3 linked regions of the Homo sapiens genome follow. The protein of the gene in region 3 purifies or fractionates together with the protein of the main gene of each other region. This does not show direct contact. Each region holds a gene or a part of one and is shown on either strand. Other genes may lie near its edges. The genes, in order: MAN2B2, RAB21 and FUCA2.

Region 1 (3,656 bases), on a different chromosome or scaffold from region 3:
TGAGCCGGGAGCGGATTGCATACGTGTAATTCTGTGCTGTCATGTTCCTGGAGGAGAAGGGAGCATCAGTAAGTGAAGCTCCAGGAACCTTCTAGATGCTTCCTTTTTGCTTCCCTTCCTTCATGTGGGCAGGGTGGGCAGGGCAGGGTACGCCGAAAGGCAGGGAGCCTTCTTGGGCCATGTGGACAATAGCACCACCCAGGACCCCGAGCGGCTGGGAGCAGCCTGGTTCCCCGACACCGCAGGGCTGCCATGCCGGGCCTGCCTTACGTCTGCTCTGATCATGGAAGAACAGGTGCTCTGTGGGCCCCAGGGTCTGTGGGTCTCTCTCCCAGCTCTGAACTTAGCTCCCAACCAACGTGACACAGCACACGCAAACGCAGCCAGCATGCAGACACCAGAGCAATTCATTTCTTCATCAGACCACGTGTCAACCACGGCCCGGAAGCTGGGGTTCAGAGCAAAGACAGACCCTCATTCACTGAGCTGCCTGCACGCGTGCGCTGACTGTGTGCCGGGCTGTGGGGGTCACCCCAGGGGAAGCACCTGTAGAAGTACTGCCGGATCTCAGTCACAAGCTGTCCCGCCACAATCTCCATTTCCACAGCTTCCCACGCAGGCACCGCGGCCTTGCCCGGTGTGAACAGGTAGTTATCGGAAATGGGGCCCTGTTTCACATCCCCGTTGACGTGGTACTCCAGGAATTCCTGGGTCACGCGCACCGTTCGGTTACTCTGTCTGCAGAGGCAGGAGAGAGAAGATGTCATTCTCATCCTGCACAAGGTCTTACAGACACCGGCTGGCAAGCCTCTCTCTCCAGATGCCATCTGAGTGGCCTGCGTAGCACTCACGAGGCCATGTGACTCAGCTCATCTAGAAGCCCTGAGACCCCACCCACAGCCAGTGTGGCCTTAGACTCCATGCTGTCCCAGAATGGGTCACAAACGAGGAGACGGACAGAGCCTGCAGACAGGAACCGTGAGCCGTCAGCAGAGGGCACCCCCAAGAGATGGAACTGGCTCACCCAGGCTGTGGTCTGCAAGCGAAACCAGTGCAGGAACGGGCTTTTGTCATGCTGACTCTGAGCTGTCCAGCAGGACACCCATGTGTACAGACCCCATGTCATGGGCCAGAGCCTTCACTGACTTCACCTGGTTAAATTCTCCCAACCCCCAAAGGCAGGGACTGTTAACCCATCCCACTCCCGAGGCATCCGAGGCTGGAAGTTGTGACATCATGTACCCAAGATCACACATCTAGGAAGTGTGCAAGCCAGAACTCAAATTCAGCCCCGACTTTAAATTCTGTGCTCCCTCCCTTCTATTAGGATGTTTGTGTTAGGACAGAGGATGGGAGAAGAGCAGGAGGGGGTCAAGTATTTTAATTGTAAAATGCAATATTTGGCCTAACCAAGTGCACAAGTGATGTATTTGTATCTGAGTCTGGCCTGGCTGTGGGCGGACAATGAGGTGGATGGCCTCTGCACCCACTTCTCTGTGGGATTGTGGTGAGGGTGGGGAAGGAAAGGGAGGCAGGCTGTGGAGGGTTCTACTGAGTGCTGGTGGAGGAGGAGAAAGAAAAGAATTGAGGCCTCTGGCCCTGGACCCCTTCCCCGCACGATCCTTTTAAAAAGCTCCCCCAGGGGCCATCAAAAGAGTAAAAAGACAAGCCATGGAATGGGAGGAGGGATTTGCAAATCATAAATCTGACAAGGGACTTGTAGCTAGAATATATAAAGAACTCTTACAACTCAATAATAAAAGACAAGCCAATTTAAAAATAGGTAAAGGATCTAAAGACACATCTCACCACAGAAGATATGCTAGTGACCAGTAAGTACATGAAGAGATGCTCAACACCATTAGTTAGCAGGGAAATGCAAATCGAAACCATCATGAGATGCCACTTCTCGCCCACGAGAATGGCTATAATTGAAAAGACAGAAAATAACAAGTGTGGGCGAGGATGTGAAGAAATCAGAACCCTCATCTGCTGCTGGGAGGAACAGAAAATGGTGCAGCCGCTTTGGAAAACGGTCGGGCAGTTCCTCAAAGAGTTAAACATAGAGTTAGCTTGTGACTGAGTAATTCTACTCCTAGCTATGTACCCAGGAGAAACGAAAATGTATGTCCACACAAAAACTTGTACATGAATGTTCAGAGCAGCATTATTGATAGTGGCTAAAACGTGGAAACAACCCAAATGTCCATCAACTAAAGAATGGATAAACAAAATATGGTACATACATGCGATGGAATAGTATTCTGCCATGAAAAGGAACGAAGTACTGATACGTGCTACGATACTGATGAACCTTGAAAACATGCTAAGTGGGTTGTGGGTTGGGCATGGTGGCTCAAGCCTGTAATCCCAGCACTTTGGGAAGCTGAGGCAGGTGGATCACTTGAGCTCAGGAGTTTGAGACCAGCCTGGGCAACATGGTGAAACACCATCTCTGCAAAACACAAAAATTAGCTGGGTGTGGTGGTATGCACATGTAATCCCAGCTACTCAAGAGGCTGAGGTGGGAGGATCACTTGAGCCCCAGAGGAGGTTGAGGCTGCAGTGAGCCATGATTGTGCCACTGCACTCCAGCCTAGATTACAGAGTGAGACTCTCTCAATCAATCAATCAATCAATAAAAAGGGGGAAAAATATGTGAAGTGAAAGAAGTGAGTTGCAAAAGGACCACATATTGTATGAACAGGTAAATCCATATAGACAGAAATAGTCTAGGATTGCCAGGGCCCGTGGGGGAGTGATTGCTCAACAGCATGAAGTTTCTTTCTGGAGTAATGAAAACGTTCTAAAATTGATTGTGGTGATGGCTGCACAACTCTGTGAATGCACCAGAAACCACTGAATTGCCCACTTTAAATGGGTGAATTGTGTGTTATGTGAAGTGCATCTCAGTCAAGCTGTTACATAAGGAACAGAAGCGCTCCCTTCAACCCACACTGCCCTGGGGTTGGTGTCTGCACCCTTGGCTTCCCACCCCAGGCCTCTGCACAGGCTGTCTCCTTCCTATGGAGCAACCTCCCCTATGCCCTTCGAGGCCTGGGGCCTGGCCCCAGGTGTCGTCTCCCGATGGCCCCTACTCTGAATACCAACAGCTCCTCCTTTCTGCTCAGGTGACAGGCACTGGTTTTGCAAGGCTTACCCCTGGTGGGGTTTTGGGAGCCCAATAAGAACTCCTTTGTCCTCACTGGAGTTCAAAACAAGAGAGACAGACAGGGCCACAAACGGGACAGGACAGCCTGAGCTCCAGTGCTGGAAATGCCGGGTGGGACCCTGGCTTAGGCATGTGGGGTCCGTGGGCTGCCCTAAGGGGCATGTACAGAGGGGGCATGGGGCCTGAGTGAGGAACGGACAGGGCACATTCTGCCTCTCCTGGCCTAACCTGGCAGGCTTGGACCATGCTGGGGTTTCTCCCATTTCTGCAGCTCCTCTGCCCAACTCCCCCCTTGCCAGCCACCCATGCTGGCTGCTGTCACCCCTGCACCTGCCCCACTTTCCCTCAGGAGCCACTGGGGAAAGATGAGGACAGACCTGACTGGGGCCCCATTCCCAGAGAAGTCCTGGAGCTCTGTGGGCAGGGAGCTGCTGACAGTGACCTTGAGCTGAGCTCCCCTGATACCCACCTCAGTACAAATGCC
Region 2 (3,656 bases), on a different chromosome or scaffold from region 3:
ATCAAATAGGCAGTAAGCCAGAAAAACTTTTGAAGTATTTGAGTCCCAAATTAATCTATAAAAATTTCGAGGCTTGTTATATTTGTGTTATTTAAAATTTGATTTAATGTATAGAGAATTTAAATAGCTATATAAACTTAATTTCACTAAACTTGAGTAAATTAATATGTCACTAAAACTGTTACTATAAAAAAGCAGTTAAGACAAAATCATGAATAATATTTTACATCAATCACCGATGTTACTTTTTTTTAAGGTATGCAGAATCTGTGGGAGCAAAACATTATCATACTTCAGCCAAACAGAACAAAGGAATTGAGGAACTCTTTCTTGACCTTTGTAAAAGTAGGTATATTCAGATTTAGTTTGTTTAGAAATGGTTTTTGGTTTTTATTTTTTAAAAAATAGTATGTATTTTACACCAGTGTTACTTTTCAAAGAATTGGTTCTTTTTAAACTATTGACTATTGGTAGTATTTCTGAAGTGCTGTAACTATTTTTTTTAATGCTTAAATACCTACTTTAACCCTGTTTCAAGCAGTAATTAATGGTTATGAAATCATAAGTATGGTGTGGGCTAAATATATATTATAATATATGCATAAGTATTAAAAGTGGAAGGGGAATTTACATATTAAAACAGATTTAAGACCTGTAACAACCTCTTGCAATGAATGGACCTTATTTGGACACTGATTTGTCAAACTAGTGAAAAAGAGTGTTTGTGAAACAAGATATTTGATGATATTAAGATACTATTAATTTTTTAGGTGTGATTATGGTATTGTGGTTATGCTTTATAAAAGGAGTTCTTATCTTTTAAAGACACATTAAAATAATTTAGGAATAAAGTTATGGGTCTGAGATTTGACTCAAAATAATGGTAGGGATGCTTAGGGTTATTCATGAAATTGGGTGATGGATTTTCATTATGCTGTATTTTCTACTTTATGTTTGAAATTTTCCATATTAAAAAGTTTATAGTTTTAAAGAAAAAGGAAAATAAATTTATATATATTCTGAAAATCATTTCTTATATTACCAATAAAATGCATATCTGAGTTTATGGACTTTAGACTCTTTTGAGAATTTGATGAAATCATGGTTTTTCTCTCTAGAAAAGAATATTGATATGTGTGTGTGTGTGTACACACACACACACATTTTGGAATAAATTAGTTTTATAAAACCCTCAAGTCATTCATAATTCTTCTAAAATATTGATTATGTAAGTGATGTCCCCTGATCAGCAGCATCAATATCACTTGAAAATATGTCAGAAATGCAAATTCTTGGGCTCTCCAAGCCTGCCGAATCAGAATTTCTAGGGATGGTGCCCAGAATCTGTGTTTTAACAAACGCTTCATATGATTCCAATGCACACTAAAATATAAGAGCCAATGCTGTACATAACAACTTGGGGATCTTATTAAATGCATATTTTGATTTAATAGGTGTGGGATAGATTGAGGTCCTCATTTCTACAAGCACCCAAGTGGTGGTGATGCTAGTCATCAGGATATCCTCCTTCCTTACCTCCCTCCCTCCCTCCCTTCCTTCCTTCTGATAATGCTTTTAAATAACAATGCACTAAGTCAGTGGCTTACAAATGTTATAAATATCACATCTTCAAAACAATTTTTGCATGCTCCACATGTTTATTTAGAAATTATATAACATGTACAAGTACTAATATGTACATTTTAAAACATACCTAAAAAATAGAAATTTTGGAAAGTTAAAAATAAGTAGATATAGAATTTATAATGTTTTCTTATTTCCTCTTGTTGGATTGTCCCACATACCTCAAATTGTAAACCATTAATCAAGAGCAGTCTCTAATTTAAGAGCCCTTTTGTATTTTAAGGACACCCTCTTTTCTTCCTTCATCTTCTCAAATACGTGTTTTGTAAATACTTTCTCTCAGTCTGTGTTGTGTATTCCCATTTTTCTTACCTGTGTCTCTTAAAGTGCAGTTTTAAGTTTCAGTGAGGTCCAGTTTATCTATTTTTCTTTTATGATTCATGTTTTATGTCTTACATGAGAACTCTTTGTGTAAGCCAAAGTCACAAAAATTTTCTCCTATGAAGATTTTTCTCCTGTGTTTTCTTCTGGAAATTTTGTTTCATGTCTTACATTTAAGTGTATAATTCATTTTTCGTTGTTTTTTGCATAAGATGTTAAGGTGTGGGTTAAGGTTGATTTTTTTTTTTTACAATAGATGTCCAGTTCTATTAATACTACTGTTTTTTGAAAATATTCTTTCTTCATTGAATAACCTTGGCAACCATGTCAAAAATCAAGAGACCATATCTACGGGGTCTATTTCTGGACTGTGTTTTTTTGGTTCCACTGATCTATTTCTCCTATCATTGTCTCACTGTTTTGATTAGTGTAGCTTTATACTAGTTCTTGCAATCAGGTGGTGTGAGTCTTTCTGCTGTGTTCTTCGAAGTTCCCTCATCTTAAACTCCATTATTCTTCAAATATCGCTGTGGTCAGGGACAGTGGCTCACACCTATAAGCCCAGTGCTTTATGAGGCCAAGGCCATAGGATCACTTGAGCCCAGGAGTTTGAGACCAGCCTGGGCAACATAGTGAGACCCCCATCTCTAGCAAAAAAAAAAAACTCAGCCAGGCATGGTGTTGCATACCTGTAATTCCAGCTACTCAGGGACTGAGGCAGGAGGATCAACTGAGCCCAGGAGTTAGGGGCTGCAGTGAGTAAGTGATGATCACACCACTGCACATCCAGCCTGGGTATCAAAGCGAGACCCTGTCTCTCAAAACTAAAATAAAAAGAATCATTTACTTAAAAGTATTACATTTCTAGTTGAAGAATAAATCCTGCCCCCTAAATATTACTTGGAATAATTTGAACTTCTTTGACATATTTCTAAGTGTGTTTGGAAAATCTTAAGGATTATACTTGTACGCAGGCAATTGTTCAGAGCAAAAAAATTTTTTTCTTTATTGATATCACTGTGGCCATTATACCACTGGATAAATAAGCTTACTACTTGATACTAGTTTTTGACACTAGTTTTTTAAAACATGCAGGTGAAGCTGTTTTAGTGAGCTGACCCAATGTTCATTATATTTAGTTTCTTTGTTGGTCGAAAGTCAGAAATAGCTATCATAGTGTTATACTGAAATTTTAGAAAGAGAAAACACAAATATTGTGGTCCTAATAATGTTTGCTTTCTCTCTGTCTTAGGGATGATAGAAACAGCACAAGTGGATGAGAGAGCAAAAGGCAATGGCTCTAGTCAGCCGGGAACTGCAAGGCGAGGTGTACAGATTATTGATGATGAACCTCAAGCCCAGACCAGTGGTGGAGGGTGCTGTTCTTCTGGATAACTGTTCACGCCTAAGAAATTAAAAGACAGAACAAAACTGTGGATCATTGCCCTCAACATGAAGACTGCCATATTCCAAGTCACATTATTTTACCAATGGAATTATAGAATTAACAGTATTTTAAATTACGTTTATAACACTGCAGAGACCTTAAGTGCTAAACTTAGTGGAGTTTGTGACCAGAGAATTGGCATTTTCTACAAATGTTTTTTTTTGTTTTTTTTTTGTTTTTTTTTGTTTTTTTTTGAGACGGAGTCTCGCTCTGTCACCCAGGCTGGAGTGCACTGGCTTGATCT
Region 3 (3,656 bases):
CTAAGAGCTGAGTACTTTCAGCCAAAATTTGTCCACTACTGGGAGATACCTAGAAATGATGTAAGCTCAATCTGATAAACAATAAATGTTTCAAAACATGCAAATTCTTCCCCTTCTCTTTATATTAGAGTAAGCAAAGTTTGGAAAGTGCTTTGTATATGTAGGAATTCATCCAATTTCTCTTTTTATCCTACTCTTCTTTATATGTCTGATAAATTTTAAATCTCTTCCTTTATAAAAGAGTACTTGGTAACAAGAATGACTTACCACACATCTGGGGTGACAGTGTCATTCTGGGATCGCCAGGTATGGGTTTCATAAATAGCTTCTCCATTGACTTTTAGCCAGGACCCCATTTGCCTCAGTCGCTCCTCAAAAACTACAGAAATGGTGCCATCTAGTGTGGGCCCAATATTCATCAAAAGATTTCCTCCACATGAAACTGTCTCTACAAGTTGCTAAAAAATTAAGAATAATGTTTTTAGATAAATAAAATAATTCCATCTTTAATGTGCTAATATGTTGCATTTATATATTTATACATGTATATATAGTCACTGCCTAGAAGAACAAACACAGGATAGAACAATGTCCTATATTTATAGGCCATTGAGCCATAGAAGAAATAATTCCTACATGACCACACTATTAAGAATATTATGTTAATAGCCACCAGACATTTCACTGTACCTTCACCAATTCTTCAATTGTAAGATAGTCAGAGATTCCAGCTTCCCTCCTATAGCCCCAGGACAGTTTGTCTATTGTCATGCAGTTTTCCCATTTATGTGGCAAAAGATGTCCTGGGTTATAACGATCACTGCAGGTATAGAAGCCACCATGCTTACAGATGCTACCAGCTCCCCAACGATCATTGGTGACTACTGTGCCCCGAACTGGGCTGAAATGAAACATACAATTTTTTAAAACAAAAGGTATAAGCTTTTTATACAAAAAGAAATGTCACTGAAAAGACATGTAATTGAAATACAATTCTGAAAAGGGACCATGGCATAGTACAGTGGAAAGCCCATGGTTTTGAAGTCAAACAGACCTGAGTTGATTGGAGTTCTGGCTTTGTCACTTTCTAGCTCCCAGACCTAGAGCAAATTACCTGACTCCTCTGAATAATGAATTTCCTCATCTATGATTAGAACAAAAATAAGTTATGTAAAACATTAGCCTGGTACCCAGCACATATAGCACTCATAAGAGTATTATATGAATATTTTAAGCTCCCTTCCATATTGTAAATGGTAGCCAAAACTGAATTTATACCCAAGACACTTTTCTTTTCAATGATTCAATGATCTCATACATGTAGTCTAGCCTTTCTTTTTCTCTTACCATTGTGCCTAATATTGAAAAATCTCAGAAAATTTGACTGTTGATATCATGTGAAATATCCCCACAATATTGCTTATCATAGCAGGTGGCATATTTAAGAGGGAAATACACGCCACATAGAGGGAACAGTTTTGAGTCACAAATTGAAGTGATGGCTCCCAGTTTTTTCCCTTGGAAGGAGTACCTGGACACACTGCTGTTTTAAGTATCAAGAGTTCTTCAGAATATTTGTATTTGTGCCCTTTGTGGGCCCAGGAAGTGCAAGCAGAAGGTTGCCTGACTTCGTAGCACAATACCCAGTGCTTTCTAGTGTACATGCAAATTTGGTCCATATAGTTTAAGCCTAATGGAGGAGTTTAATCAGAACTCCCTGTTCTAATAGGGCAGCCTTGAACATACCAGGAAGCAATAGGAAAAAACTGGAGAAAGTGAAAAGGCTGCGATGAAGGAAAAGAGGAGACAAACAAGGGTGACATTGGCTGGGCAGCAAAGATGACCAAAAGGTAAGAGGATAAAAAGAAGCAGTCTGCGGGATTCAGAAGCAAATAGTCAGAAATAGTGATGAAGAAACAGAGTTGTCCCAGAATAGAGGCCATAAAGGACCAGGGTAGGAGAGAAAAAGGGGGGACCCACAAAATTAACACCTTCAAAGTTCTTGATCCTGTGATTTTTAGTCTGATCTCAAAATCAGACCATTGAGTTGGATTTTACTCCTGATTTATTTACCCTTGATTATGTTGAGTAAATAGTGATATATCTAATAAGTATTATTTACAATGATTTTCTCCCCCCATACCACCAATGACTTAAAATGAAATATTTCAAGAGGTGAAGGAATTAAAATGTTAGAAATATATTAGGAATATGGAGGGTAACTGCAGCAATCTCATAGCATACACACCTTTCATTATATAACCAGGCCAAGAAGCCTGTGCTGTTCCAGTATTGATCCGGTGCTCCTCCGTCACCATCCGACCACAGAACCTCAGGCTGATAGTTGTTCACTAACTCATAGAGCTCTGGCAATGTCTTAGAAACTGGAAATTGCCGCTTATGGAATGAACTGGATTCATCCTCAAGGAAGAGCGGATGAAACCATTCAAAAAGGGAATAGTACAGTCCAAAACGCAGGTCAGTTCTGTTCCTAATGGCTACCTCAAGTTCCTTGACAATGTCCCTCTTGGGCCCCTCATCTATGGCATTCCAGTTCCACGAATATTCTGACCCCCACAAGGTAAAGCCTAGAAAATTATAGTGAAAACCCTTGTAAGCATGTCAACTTTATTTTAGTAAATTTCAACCCACACAAATGCCCAAACAAATCACATAGTACATGCGATATATAAATACCTGCTCCTACAAATGACTGTTTTATGGCCATTTTTTCATAGCATATATTGTGCTTTTATATGAGAAGTGAGAATTTAAACAAGGTGAGACAGGTTTTTAAAAGCAACTTTCAGGGTATATCACTGTACGGTCTGATCTATCTCCAGTATTTTCCCTCTTAGATTTTAAGGTCCTTAAGGGATTGCATCATGTCTGCAGTGCTCCCTGCTATGTCTCCAGCCAACTGCTAGCACAAGGTATAAACAATCAACAATAGCAGCTCACAACTAAGATGGGAACATATACATGTACCATGCTAAATGATGACTACCACTATTTATTATGAAGATCCTGAGATGCACTCCTGCAAGATTCTTAGTGTCTTCTAAACCAAAGCTTGAAGTCTACTGCTTAGTTTTAGGATTGTTTATTTTATTATAGTGTGATTCTTAGAACACTGGTGATCCACGTATAGCAAATCTCTTTTAGCCTGATTATTTATTTAACCAGAGGGGCAAAAAAAAACCCCTACTATTCCCAATAGTTCTATACTTTAAAATATACTCACCACGTGTAATCTCATCCTACTATAAAATCATAAGCTTGGATGTTCCTCTTTAATAAAATTACCCAAAAGTGAATAGTCTACCAACTACATAGATAAGAAAAACAATGTATACCTTTATACAAACACTTAGAAGTGGTTCGTTTTTAAGAGGAATTTGTATTTAGATTACTGATTGTTCCATATAAAAATGTTAGAAGAGATATATAAACTGAAATACTTAAAACATAATAAATATGAAAGCCTCAAAAATTTCATCAGTGCCTAGAGACTTAAATACATTGTTACTATTCCACTAAAATCTAAAAGAATCTTTGAGAATAGACATTTATAAGGTACATTTGGTGAAACATTTTACTCTTGGTAAATTAGAACAAGTCTAAGAATGACTCATACTTTCGATTTTTTTTTTTTT

Evidence for each region.
Region 1: the proteins of FUCA2 (region 3) and MAN2B2 purify together in Homo sapiens (affinity purification with mass spectrometry; 2 studies listed by BioGRID and IntAct, with this or other methods). This does not show direct contact.
Region 2: the proteins of FUCA2 (region 3) and RAB21 purify together in Homo sapiens (affinity purification with mass spectrometry; one large-scale study listed by BioGRID and IntAct). This does not show direct contact.

Annotation. Positions count from the first base shown.
Region 1 is NC_000004.12:6,606,189-6,609,844, reverse strand, and holds part of MAN2B2 (epididymis-specific alpha-mannosidase isoform 1 precursor), read right to left. Parts: intron 739-3,656; coding exon 547-738; intron 48-546; coding exon 1-47.
Region 2 is NC_000012.12:71,782,314-71,785,969, forward strand, and holds part of RAB21 (ras-related protein Rab-21), read left to right. Parts: intron 1-256; coding exon 257-345; intron 346-3,217; coding exon 3,218-3,360; 3' UTR 3,361-3,656. UniProt on the Homo sapiens protein: The small GTPases Rab are key regulators of intracellular membrane trafficking, from the formation of transport vesicles to their fusion with membranes.
Region 3 is NC_000006.12:143,501,665-143,505,320, forward strand, and holds part of FUCA2 (plasma alpha-L-fucosidase precursor), read right to left. Parts: intron 2,589-3,656; coding exon 2,249-2,588; intron 902-2,248; coding exon 691-901; intron 459-690; coding exon 268-458; intron 1-267. UniProt on the Homo sapiens protein: Alpha-L-fucosidase is responsible for hydrolyzing the alpha-1,6-linked fucose joined to the reducing-end N-acetylglucosamine of the carbohydrate moieties of glycoproteins.